2 separate regions of the Homo sapiens genome follow, and region 1 is linked to region 2. The links come from fine-mapping of genetic effects on gene expression. Tissue or cell type: whole blood. Region 2 holds a variant in brackets; the other region holds the start of a gene. All regions are shown on one strand. Distances are between the middles of the regions.

The links. PIP is the estimated chance that this variant, and not a neighbour inherited with it, causes the effect.
Region 1: ACSS3 starts here. The variant in region 2 is fine-mapped to the expression of ACSS3 in whole blood (INTERVAL, PIP above 0.99).

Annotation. Positions count from the first base shown.
Region 1 is chr12:81,075,701-81,079,700 of GRCh38, forward strand. It overlaps ACSS3 (acyl-CoA synthetase short chain family member 3), which reads left to right and starts at 2,379. Exons shown (of 16, transcript NM_024560.4): 1 at 2,379-2,731. The coding sequence starts at 2,421.
Region 2 is chr12:80,937,598-80,945,919 of GRCh38, forward strand. LIN7A (lin-7 cell polarity scaffold A) reads right to left here and starts at 337. Exons shown (of 6, transcript NM_004664.4): 1 at 44-337. The coding sequence starts at 125. The variant G/A (reference allele first, on the strand shown) is at 4,913.

The DNA of each region.
Region 1 (4,000 bases), 140 kb after region 2:
TGCTCTACCTGTACACTGAACACTCTCAAAACCAGACCCACTGCATTTGCTGGATTGTGTCTACACTTATGCTCTCCCTTCAGCCTGAAATGGAGCTTACAGTAACAATCTATTGTATACAATTACTTTCAAAAGAAAAAATGGTATACTGATGGGTCCAGAAAAAGTGGTTTCATCTGGCGATACGGGGGTCTAACTTTGCCTCATGTGATCTTGTAATCAGTTCCTTGTTTTTAAGCTCTGAACTTCATACTTCCTTCTGAACCTTCAGAGGAACCCAGCACCTCCAAAACTTGAGACATACCAGGTTCCTAAGGAGAAAATGGATTCTCCTTAGGAAAATCTATTTTCTCCTCCACAAGCTCCTCCTCCCACTTTTAAATCATATTCCACAGATTCATCTTCTTTCTATTCTTTCATTTGGTTTCTTTTCTTTTCCTGTTCTCTTTATCCTTGTAGGATTTTTACCACGACAACCGCCCTCTTTGATTCTCTTTCAGTGGAGTTTCTTTAAGGAGAAGAATGAATGTGGCTATTCAATTTGTCATATTTTACTGGAATTCTAAGATTTTTTTTTTTTTTTTAAAGTAGAAGATACTCAGCCTGGAATTAAAATGGTGGACTTTGGAGTCAGATTCCCCTCCTTGTTCAAGTTGTGGCACAGAGATAAAATGATCGTATTTGCACAGTATCCTGGAGTGAGTGACAGGATTAGAGTGGGTTTTCCCCTAGCCCTCCACCTTGAGGTGTCAGTAAATTGTATCACGGCATATCTGTAATTCAAAGCATCTGGGCTTTGAAATACTGGGCATCCATAAAGTTTGAATCCTGACTGTTTCACTTGCTAGCTGCGTGGCCTTGGGCAAGTCGATCTATCTCTATACTAGCTCCATTTGTAAACATGGGATTATGATTCCCACTTCTTGGTACTTTCATGAGAATTACAGGAGCTAACATTTGTTTAAAGTGCCCAGTATAATGTGAACACATGCTAGGTGCCAATAATAAATCTGTCGTTCTGGAAGGATGAAGAGGTTAAATGGCTTTGTAACTTTCTCTGGATTTAAATGGTGACTGTGTCTTTGGCCATTCGACATTATTTGATTTGAGACCTTTGGAAGGACTAAAGTAGACTGCAGATGTCAGGGAAAAGTCTAGTGCCTTGCCTCTCAGTGGAAAGGGAGGTGGTTATTTAAAGAAATATTCTCTGTTTTGCATTGCACTTACCTCTGTTCTGTTTAGCCTTTATCTCCACATTATTCTTTTCCTGCAGAATCATTTGTTTACGGATTCTCAAGTTATGATCCTTCCCAAGGTCAGGGGCATGCCACTATTTCTCACCTCAGATTTGGAAATACGTATCTTTACATTTAAAACTGCAAATACTGTCACACCAAGACAGAATGTGTTTGGCATAATATTAAGGCAAAAGATTGCATCTGAATCTCGCTAAAGCATGAATAATAGCGGAGCTTGACGAATGTTAAACCTAGACAGTACTATATACCACCTTTCTTTTTACATTTTCCCAGTTTCCTCTTTTGATTCATCTTTACTTACTTCCTATTTTTGTTTTTTGTTTATTTGTTTGTTTTGTTTTCTCATTAGAAAAGCCACAGAAACTCCAAGCAGGCAAATTAGAAGGGAGGCAATGCAACAAGTCCTATCTGTTCTCTGTCTAGATCACATGCGGAGTCTGGTCAGCAGGTGAATCCGCATCCCAGTGGGGTCACCTTCCCTGTGACCTGTCAATCACCCCAAGAAGCACTTCCCAATTTGTCTGGCACAACCTCCTTCCACTCCTCCTACCCTCTCAGTGGTCAGGAAATCCCGGAGCAGTCCTTGCCCTGGAGCTGCTTGTGTTTTTAGTAACCAGGGACTGAGCTGATTTTGAAAAATCAATCAATCAATAAATAACAATCAAAGAGCCTTGCCTCAACGCACCGAGTTGCTGGTTTCCTGCAGGTCAGAGGCGATGCCACCTCCACCAACGACCTTCCAAAGATTAAACCAGCCGTGTACAAACTGCTGGATTGAAAATTGAGAGATGGGCCGTTGGCCTCCTCCTAGGAGTACTTGTGTGTTGAAATCGGAAGGACGTTCTGGAGTTTGAGCGCGATTTTTCCCGGAAGGCTGCGGGGTTGGAAGTGCATGTTGGGGTTTGGATCTCGTGCAGCAGCGCAACTAACCTGCTGCAACGGCGCTGTGACACCCCTGTCCCGGGGCCCCCACTTTAGCCTGTTGCTTCTCTGGTCGCTCCAGGTCGGTTTTTCCCGGCGACTCTAGTGTGGCTTCCAAACTTCTGGGCTCTGGGCTCACTTCGGAATTTGCCCCCGCCCCCTACTCCCTTCCCTCAGGCCCCAGGAAGTTGCAAGAGTACCATTTGTCGCACACTCGGGGACCGCGGGTGGCCGGAGGAGATGAAACCGTCTTGGCTGCAGTGTCGTAAAGTCACCAGCGCCGGGGGGCTCGGAGGGCCCTTGCCTGGGTCCTCTCCGGCCCGGGGAGCCGGTGCGGCCCTCAGGGCTTTAGTGGTCCCGGGCCCGCGGGGCGGTCTCGGGGGCCGGGGATGCAGGGCACTGTCCTCCGGCAGTGGCAGCGAGTACAAGACCCACTTCGCAGCCTCGGTGACCGACCCCGAGAGGTTCTGGGGCAAAGCTGCCGAGCAGATCAGCTGGTACAAGCCCTGGACCAAAACGCTGGAGAACAAACACTCGCCCTCTACCAGGTGGTGAGTGACTTCTGTGCCAACCCTGATCCCCCATCCCTGGTAACTTTTTGGGCGCCAGGACCTCCCTGGGACCTGGAATCTGGCATTCTATCACGAAAGAAAATTGAAACTGGAGATGTGTTCAGACCCCTCAATTCGTGTTTCATTTCAATTTCATAGTCAGTTCTCTTGCCTTCTGCTCTTGAGAGACCCTGTTACCTATTGTGAACCCAGTGTCCCATAAACGGGAGATTTACCTGACTGGCAAGGTTCTGCTTTGGCAGTGGGAATAGTAAGAAAACTAAAACAAGATCCTGCCTCCAGGGACCGCACAGTCTAGTAAGGGAGATACTAGGTAAACAAAGCAAGCGGTACAAGAAACTAGGGAATTATAACTAAGTATCCTCCTACTATGGGGAGGGAGGGTTAAGAAAAGACTTCAATAAAATCGCACCCCATAAGGGTTTGGAAGGATGGGTATGTCTTCTCGAAGTCGACAAGGCCCTAATTATCAAAGTTCTAGAGGTGAACAACAGCTTGAACTGTGACTGAGACAGTGACTGCCAATGATTGTGTTGGCTGGAGAGGTGGGAGGGGAAGTGGTGAGTCAGGGGCTGGGTCCGGAAGGGATTTATGTACTGTGCTAAGTAGCTTGGATCAGATCCATAGGCCTGTTGTGTATATGAAGCTGCAGTATGGGGTACCCAGAAAGAATACAGATAGATATAGGCCAGGTGATGTTAGAAGTCATGGTAGGAGTAAAGTCTTCCACCTGGAGTTGGAATTATAAGAAGTTATAAGCATGATTTTTTTTGCGTTACAACAAACGCAGACACATTGTAGAATAAATATCAAGCTTGCTAAGATACTGAGGGTGAAGCACAGTCAGTGATACTCTTAGAGTGTGGCTCCTTATGTGTCTGCCCTCTGGGGGTGTGATTGCTCTCATCTGCCAGCCATTAGAGAGGATGTTTCCTGTAAAAGTTTGAAAAACACTGCTCAGCAATGAGATGAGGGGAATGATATGGTCAGGTTTGCAGTGGACGAATGGCTCTGTGGTCAGAGCAAGAAATCTGGAATGGAATTGGCTAGAGCCTGTTCTGTGTCTCCACCATGCCCAGTCCTCTCAAAAGTGTGTGGGGATGACATGGTGTTCCCTTTAGAATCTGAGCACCTTGCCCCTTCCTATCAATTATTTTTTCAATAGTATTTGATCGGTCCTCTTTTCTGTGCCAGACAGTGAACAAGACACTGGGTGTTCAACAATGAGTAAAACCTAGTCCCTGCTTT
Region 2 (8,322 bases):
GGAGAGGGGACGCGGTGGCCTGGCGAGCGAGCCGCTCCCTTACCTCTGTCCAGGGTGAGCGGCTGGACCACTGTCAATGTCGCCATGTCTGCCGTGGGAGCCGAAGTGACGCTCGGCTTCAGCATCAGCAACCGCTCGTAGTGAGAAAAAAAGGAGGAGATTGGGGGCGGGGGTGGAGAGGGAAGACGGAAAGGAGGGGGAGGAGGGGGAAGGAAGGAAGGTGGTGGTGGTGGAGAAGAAAGCTTGGGTGGGTTGGTAGCCAGATGGAGACGCAACTGTTCCGCGGCGGCAGATCTTCAGTTGCGGTGCGGAGCTGAGCAGGTATCCGAGAGCGACTGCATCGCCGGGCTCTGGGAGGGAAGGCTCTGCCCTAGAACTTTGCTATTCCACCCCCAGGAGCGCTGGGTGGGTGTAGCTGGCGGGTTGCTTCCTTTCAACTTTCCACTCTAATAAAATGGTCAGAATATACGTGTGTGCATGCGGGTGCGTGTGTGTATAAGGGGAAGAGAGAGGATGGAAAGGGGATATGGGGAAGGGAGTGGGAGATGAGTTTTCTCAGATTAAGAGAAATTGCCAATCCAATAATCCCATCCCCTTTAGAGAGAAAATGCTTCCATTATCAGAAATGTTTGGGATGTAATTACATTTGCAGTTAATTTCTGTTGAAGTTTTTCGGAATGTTGACCTATAACGGCATATAAAGATAACTGACTAAAGGCCAGCGTTCCATCAGTAGATGTTCATTTAGGACCTGAGTATATTGCCTGGAGAAAAAAAAAAAAAAAGGCAAACCTCTTAAAAGTGCTTCAAAATAAAAAACGTGTAGGTAAGTTTCTATCGCTAAGTTTTTCTTTTTCAAGCCACTGTTAATACATTACCAATTCAGTAAATGTAGCTTAGAAACAAGTACAGTGTTCAGATTTTCTCCGAATTTTTTACATACCACATCCTGTAAACATGCCCCACTCCCCCTCACCCACCCAGCAACAAAAACTTTGCTCTTAATGTCCAAACTGATTTTGGTTGTCTATGACTACGTTTGAAAAATATGTACCTAGCACTTTTCATGTTGATTTCTAACCAGTGGTTCAGAGATGCCACTTATCGATTGATTAACATATATGCCAGGAATTGAGATAGAAGAGTTACATTGCCTTGTGCCACGCCTTGATTTAGGAGTTCAATTTAGTCTCCGACTTCCTGTAGCCTGTAATCTAGTGGGAGATGGTGTTATTAAAAACCTGACTTTAGAGTCAGTTGATCAGGATTAAATTACGAGAGCCTTCAAATACTGGCTGTGACCTCTTCGCCCCAATAAAAAGGCTACTTTCACTATCTTGTCATAGTAGGGATTCATTTCCTGACTACGAAATCAAGAAACATAAAGAAACCTTCTATAAGCTGAATAGGGGTGACTGTGGGTGCAGGATTGGAAATGACAAAGCTGCCTCCATCTTGTTTCCTGTGACAGAGCTGAATTGTTTGGGCTAACAATAAACTCTAAAAGGCAGATACTGTTTTATAGCAAAATATTTGCATATAATTGATGCCATTTTCTTCTGATTACAGATAGGATTTCTGAAGGTCTTTTTCATTTTATAGTCTACAATTGAATTTTAAAAAACAACATTTCACCAATGTGGGAAAGCCAAAGATGATTGGCCATATATAGACTTAACAGACCCTAAGAACAAACCTAAAATAGTAGTTCGATATGTTTATTTTTATTTAGTATTTAAGAAAGAATGCTGATCTTGACATTTGAGTCTTAGTCATGTACTCTTCGGAAGTCACACAATCTCTCACTGATCCTGTTTCCTCCTCTGTCATACAATGGAAATAATATCATTCAATGTCACAGAGATCTGTCATATGAGGAAACTAATTCTACCTTGCAATCTCACAGAGTTTTATGAGGGTCTAATGGAGTCATACATGTGACTGTGCTTTGAAAACAGTAAAGAATATACAAATTTATTTATACAAGCATACATCCCCTGGAACCGTGTGGTAAGCTCTGTGCTAGGTGCTAACCATGCAAAGATTAATGAGATGGCCCCCTTTCTGCCCAGTCTTGCTTGGGAGACAGTGAGCAAACCATAAGCTTCTGTGCAGTACTCTAAGCACTATTAAAAGGAAGTGCCCTCGGTGGCCAGAGGTTGCAAAAACAACTTTGGTTTTTTACCGTTATTCACATGCCCTGAATTAAGCAACAGAAAGAAGTTGAGATGAGCGCAATGATACCAGAGTGTGTTACAAGCTTTTGCACAAAGTTATTAAACCTCACTCGGTAACTGAGGATAAAAGAACATACAAATCCCTTGACTTCTAATGTAGTTATTTTACAACATCCTTTATTAGGGAATATGTATTTAAGCAGCTTGATTCATCAGCCCAAAAGTCATAAATTGTACCCATTCCAACACAAATCCCTGATTGTGGTGTCAGTGAAGGTAGAGTTTTCTTTGTCTTTTTGTTTCCTAATGCATCCTCAGGACTAAACATTTCATAGCATATTTCTGGACTTCTGCCTTGAGCTTCCTATTTGAAATTTGCTCTGTCATTCTTTCTCTGTGTTGACTCTGTAGGGTTGTTGTTGTTTTTAAATCAAGATTAAAAGAGAAATTAAAAGGAAGCATAAATCACCATAAATTCATCTGTTATTATTTTTAGTAGTGGAAAGTTCATTCCCTTTAGCTTATGTCTACACAGGTGTAGAAAATTAATAAAAATTCATTATCCATTAGAATTTGTTTTTATGAATAAATACTATCTCTCCAATAATATTTGTGAATTTCGTTTTGAGACATGCAGGGATATACTTGATCTAGTCACATGCCAGTTGCTTTGCTGTGTATTTACCTGAGAATTGTTAAAATATTTGTAATTATGCTTTTATCTTAGCTATTTGGTTACAAAATCACTACACTCTTTCATTAAATGATATGTAGAAATTTAGTTTAATGGTAACTATATTTTCATGGAGTTAACTAATTCAATAAATACTTATTGAGCACTTATATGTGCCAGACTTGGTGCTAAGTTGGTCTCTCTTTCCCTTTCTTTCCAGCCCAGAGAAGTAGGTATTTTTATGCCGTTTTGAAGATAAGTAAACTGAAGCTCACAGAGGTTACACAACTTGCTTAAGAATAGTAGCACCTGGCTTCACAATCTCCTGTGCTTTCCACTAAGAAACATCACACTTTGTTCTTTTTTTTTTTTTTTTTTTTTTTTTGAGATGGAGTCTCACTCTGTCGCACAGGCTGCAGTGCAGTGGCGCGATTTCTGCTCACTGCAACCTTCGCCCGCGGGGTTCAAGCGATTCTCCTGACTCAGCCTCCCAAATAGTTGGGCCTACAGGCGCCCGCCACCATGCCTAGCTAATTTTTGTGTTTTTTATGGAGGCGGGGCTTCACCATTATGGTCAGGCTGGCCTCGAACTCCTGACCTCAAGTGATCCGTCTCCTCAGCCTCCCAAAGTGCTGGGATTACAGGCATGAACCACCACGCTGGGCCTCATCACACTTTATTCTATGTTGTTGAAGATTTAGTGATTTCAGCCTTTTATTTCAGAATTCCAGATAAGTATATATATGGTTATAAAATCTTTTAAGAGATATATAAATATATATCTATTAAGATATATATTTTTAAGAGATATAAATATATATTATAAATATATTTTAATATAATATTAATGTATTTAATACATGTGAAATATATTTAATACATATATATGATATATTATATGTATATATACACACACACATGTCTTTTCTCTCTCTCTTTTATTTTGTGTGTGTGTTGGCTTGAGACATAGAGAGAGGAATGGATGAAGGGAAGTTAGGTCAAAGGACAAAAGAACTATGATACTGGTTCCATTATATATACATATAGGTTAATATTTAAACAACTGCCTATTTGATATATAAAATCTGTTCTTAACAAAATCATTCAAAGCTATGTTAAGGTCGGTTTCACTTAATTGAATTTTTAAAAATTATATGACAAAATCTAGAGAAGGTTTGCATAGAGCATTAGCATACCAAGGAAATGTGTTTAGTTAGATTATAAATGAAGTATAATGAGCACAGTTTCATATGAGAAAATAGCACCTTCAAACTGGAGTTCTTTCAGCCTGGGTGTTAGAAATTGTTTTTGACTGATTCAAGATAACATGTTATCTTTCTTAATTCATACAGCTTTGTCAAAACAGCACTAGATTAAGATGAAGTGCCAACCAATACTTTGAAATTTAAATGTTTATTTTTTAAAACCATCATAGAATATCTTACTATATTTAGTTTATCTTTTTTTTTTGATAACTACTTATTTGTCTGTTCATTCAACAAACACTTAATATACTGACTATATGCCAAGCACTGTACTAGGCATTGGGGTATTGCAGTGAAGAAGAAAAATTTCCTGTTCTCACTTGGCTTGTATTCTCTAAGGAAGAGAAAGTCAATAAACAAACAAGAAAGAGAGCAATTAGTGACTAAGTATTGTGCAAAGAATGAATAAATTGATGACTAAACTAGATCTAGAATAATGTCAGAATTACAAAAGACAGGGATAGGGAGAATGGCCTTATAGGGAGCAGGAGAGAAAAGCCAGGGATGAGGAAGCAGGCACAGTGTGTATTTGGGTAAAATCGGCAGTTCATTTTGGAGTATAATTAAAAAAAAAACAAGCCTAAATAGAGCTATTGAGAGTTAGGTGGTGGAAGGTAATATAATTAATGAACAGAAATACAATGAACCTTTCATTAATTTCTTTGTGCCAACCATACAATAAAATGTATGAATACAATCTATGCTAAGAAAAATATTTGTATCATAGCATCTGCATTAAAAATTACTAACTTCAGAATGAAGAGTTACTAATTCAGAGTTAGATGTTAAAATATTTC[G/A]GATGAAATTAAAATATTAAAAGTAAATTCTAAGAGTGGGCGCGGTGGCTCATGCCTGTAACCCCAGCACTTGGGGAGGCCAAGGCGGGTGGATCACCTGAGGTCGGGAGTTCGAGACCAGCCTAACCAACATGGAGAAACCCCGTCTCTACTAAAAATACAAAATTAGCCAGGCATGGTGGTGCATGCCTGTAATCCCAGCTACTCGGGAGGCTGAGGCAGGAGAATGGCTTGAACCCAGGAGGCAGAGGTTGAGGTGATCTGAGATCACGCCATTGCACTCCAGCCTGGGCAAAAAAAAAGCAAAACTATCTCAAAAAAAAAAAAAAAAAGGAAATTCTAATTATTATTATTTTTTATTTTCTCCGAAAGAAATAACACTTCTCTGTTTTCACAGTTAGAAGTTATGACTGATCTTTCAATAATGAAATTTAAATTCAAAGCTTAGTTTTTTGTTTTTCTTTATTCATCCCAAATTCATATTTACATCTCTCGCGAATGTCTAGAAATACAAGAAATATTAAACAAACTAATTTTTAAAAGTAAAGCAGTCTCTTCTCACATTTGCTCAGGAGATGATATTTCTAAACTATTAGAACTCACAAACTTTAACAATTTAAAAAACATGTTTATTACCATTGTCATCTAAACATTTTAAATATATTTAACAGTGAGTAAAAAGTTACGCTTTTGTCCAACAAATTAAGCACCTGCAATATGCTAGGCACTATTCTGTGCCTGGAACTTAGTTTTGATGAAGAGAGACAGATAAAATACAAATTAGCCATTCAATCAGATAATCTTAGATATTGATTATCATGAACATTGATGTGTTGAAGCCTATTCACACTGTATGTGAGACCCAATAATGTGCATTTTGTCTCAACATCACTTTCAGTTATATCACATTGGTATCTTTTGATTGACCATGGTGGCAGTATTTAAACCATTGGGATTGGTAAATACTCTATTCCAATTTTTTTTTCTCCCTCTAGAGAGCCACTTGTTAAACATTTACCAGCATACCACAAAGTATATGATGACAATAAAATAGGATGTTGTGATGAAATATACAGCAGGGAAAGAGGTTACTTTAGAGTGGTCAGGGAAAAAGTCACATTGTACTTAATAGAACATTTTTTAAAATAACAAATCTGCACTGCACTTGATGTGTATGTACTGACTAGGACACAGGACTAGAGATGGAGTTAGAAGTAGGAGACATTCATATTTTTATGGAGTTTACAAAACAATTGGAAAATAAAAGCATAAAATTAATTACAAAATGATATATCAATAATAAACAATACTATAAATTTATATGTGTTAAAGGGATACAGAAATAAAAAAGGTAAGTGTGGATTGTGATGACTTTCTGGAAGCAATTTATGTTGACTTCCAGAAGAAACTTAGAAATATTTACTTTCTTGCATGTAGATAGGAGAATGTTTTACCTTTGAGCAGAGAGAGCTACTCTTTGCAACTTTGAATCAGAGGATTGCTAAGTAGACCAGGAACTTCTTCTTCTTCTTCTTCTTTTTTTTTTTTTTTTTTGCATTCCTGTATGTGTTTTATTTCATTTTTATTTTTATAAAATAAAAGGAATCTAAGGAATTTCATAAAAAACTAAAGAAAGAGGAGGGGCAAAATGAATATAATAGAGTCTCAGTGTGGCTGGGGAATCTTACCATGGTGAAGGGACAACACTGCCACCTGATACTTGGAAAGGACATTAATGATAGCTAGGACTTGTTTGTTTGGGACGCTGGCTTTATTTAAAACATGGTTAAAATGGCTTTCTCTTGAGGAGCACCTCAATATCTGACTTCTATCCCTTTAAATATAGCTTAACTTACTCCTTCCACCAGCAAAATTTATCTCTAATTTTGGTAGTATGGAATTAATGAAAGATATTAGGAAGAAACAGATGAACAGGCCATCTTCAAATTCTTCACATTCTTACACTGAACAGTAATTGGGGCTAGTAACAGAATTTACTCTAAGTGTGCTGGGAAACATACATGTCAGTAATTAGCAAGTTTAAGAGCTAAATGCACAATTAGCATGGACAGCACATTCAGTAGAGAATTCCAAACTCTCTTTAGTTTTATCCTCCAATGCTCTAATTTGGAGCAAAAAATGCTATAATTTTAGTTAGTTTATATTTAAATATCATCTTTCTGGGCCCAGCCTAAAACATAGAGTGCCCTTTTCTCAAAACTAATTAGGAGGATCAAATTATGCTCCTCTAAAACTGAGTTCCTTACTCTCAACTTCTGTGGTTTCCTGGCTTTTCTGGTCCTGGAGGAACTCTTACACTCTTGCCCCTCAGGTGGGCCTTTCTGACCCTGTAATCTCCTTATACCATTCCTGAGTCTATGCCATTACACAAGGCAGATCCACTTCCTGAAATGCAGTATCTCTGAGAAGTTTCCTCTTCTAAAGTTTTCTTAATTTTGCTTATTGCTTTAAGCATTTACTCACATAATAAATCCAGTTGTGACTTTATTGTAGTCTTTTAGGGATTTAACTAGAATGGGAGCAAACGAGGCAATTGAAGATGGTTTTAACTCTATGTTAGTATCTCAAGGCTCCTGTCACCCAGAATATTGCATAGATTAATTGTGGTAAACCAACCTGAATATTTTTATTTAGACCTCAAATCAAAGAAATCCCCAAAAAGTAGAGACAGCAAGCAAATCTCTGCCATCTTTATCAAGGTAAGATAAGCAAACAAACTATTAACTCTTTTATATATCTTATATATTCTTTCCTTTACAAGAGTTTTTGTTTTGGAATTTTAAACATAAGACAATGCACATGTCAAACAATTCAAAAGGTACTGCAGAAACCCACTCAATCACAAGTCATCAATGTTAAGAAGGATTTTTTTTGTATATTTAATACCATATATTGTATGAAATATATATAACATATATTACATGTGCACATATCTTTTTAAAATTCCAAGTAGAATTCTACTGTGCACTATATTTTGCATATTTATTTATTTTATTTTAGTGATATTTTCATATCAATACATATAGATCTATATAATTCTTCTTAACTACTTCATAACATTTCATTAAAATAGCCTGTCATAGGTGTACTCTCCGGTTGTTTCTAGGCTTTTGCTATCTCAAACAGGGCTATGAATGAAAATCAGTCTTGTTTATAGCATCTTTATAAACATGAACTCCACTCAATTATGACCTTGTCATTTTGAATAATCCAGTGCTAATGTGGCCATTTTCAATTTTGTGCTTCCAGATTATAATACCTGCGATGGATTTATTCCTGCTTCATTGCATGCATTCTTTCATATGCCATTTGTTACCACTTATTTATAAAAATGTCATATTTAATTGAATTTATAAAACCTAAAGTGATTAAAAGCAAAAAACTAGTCA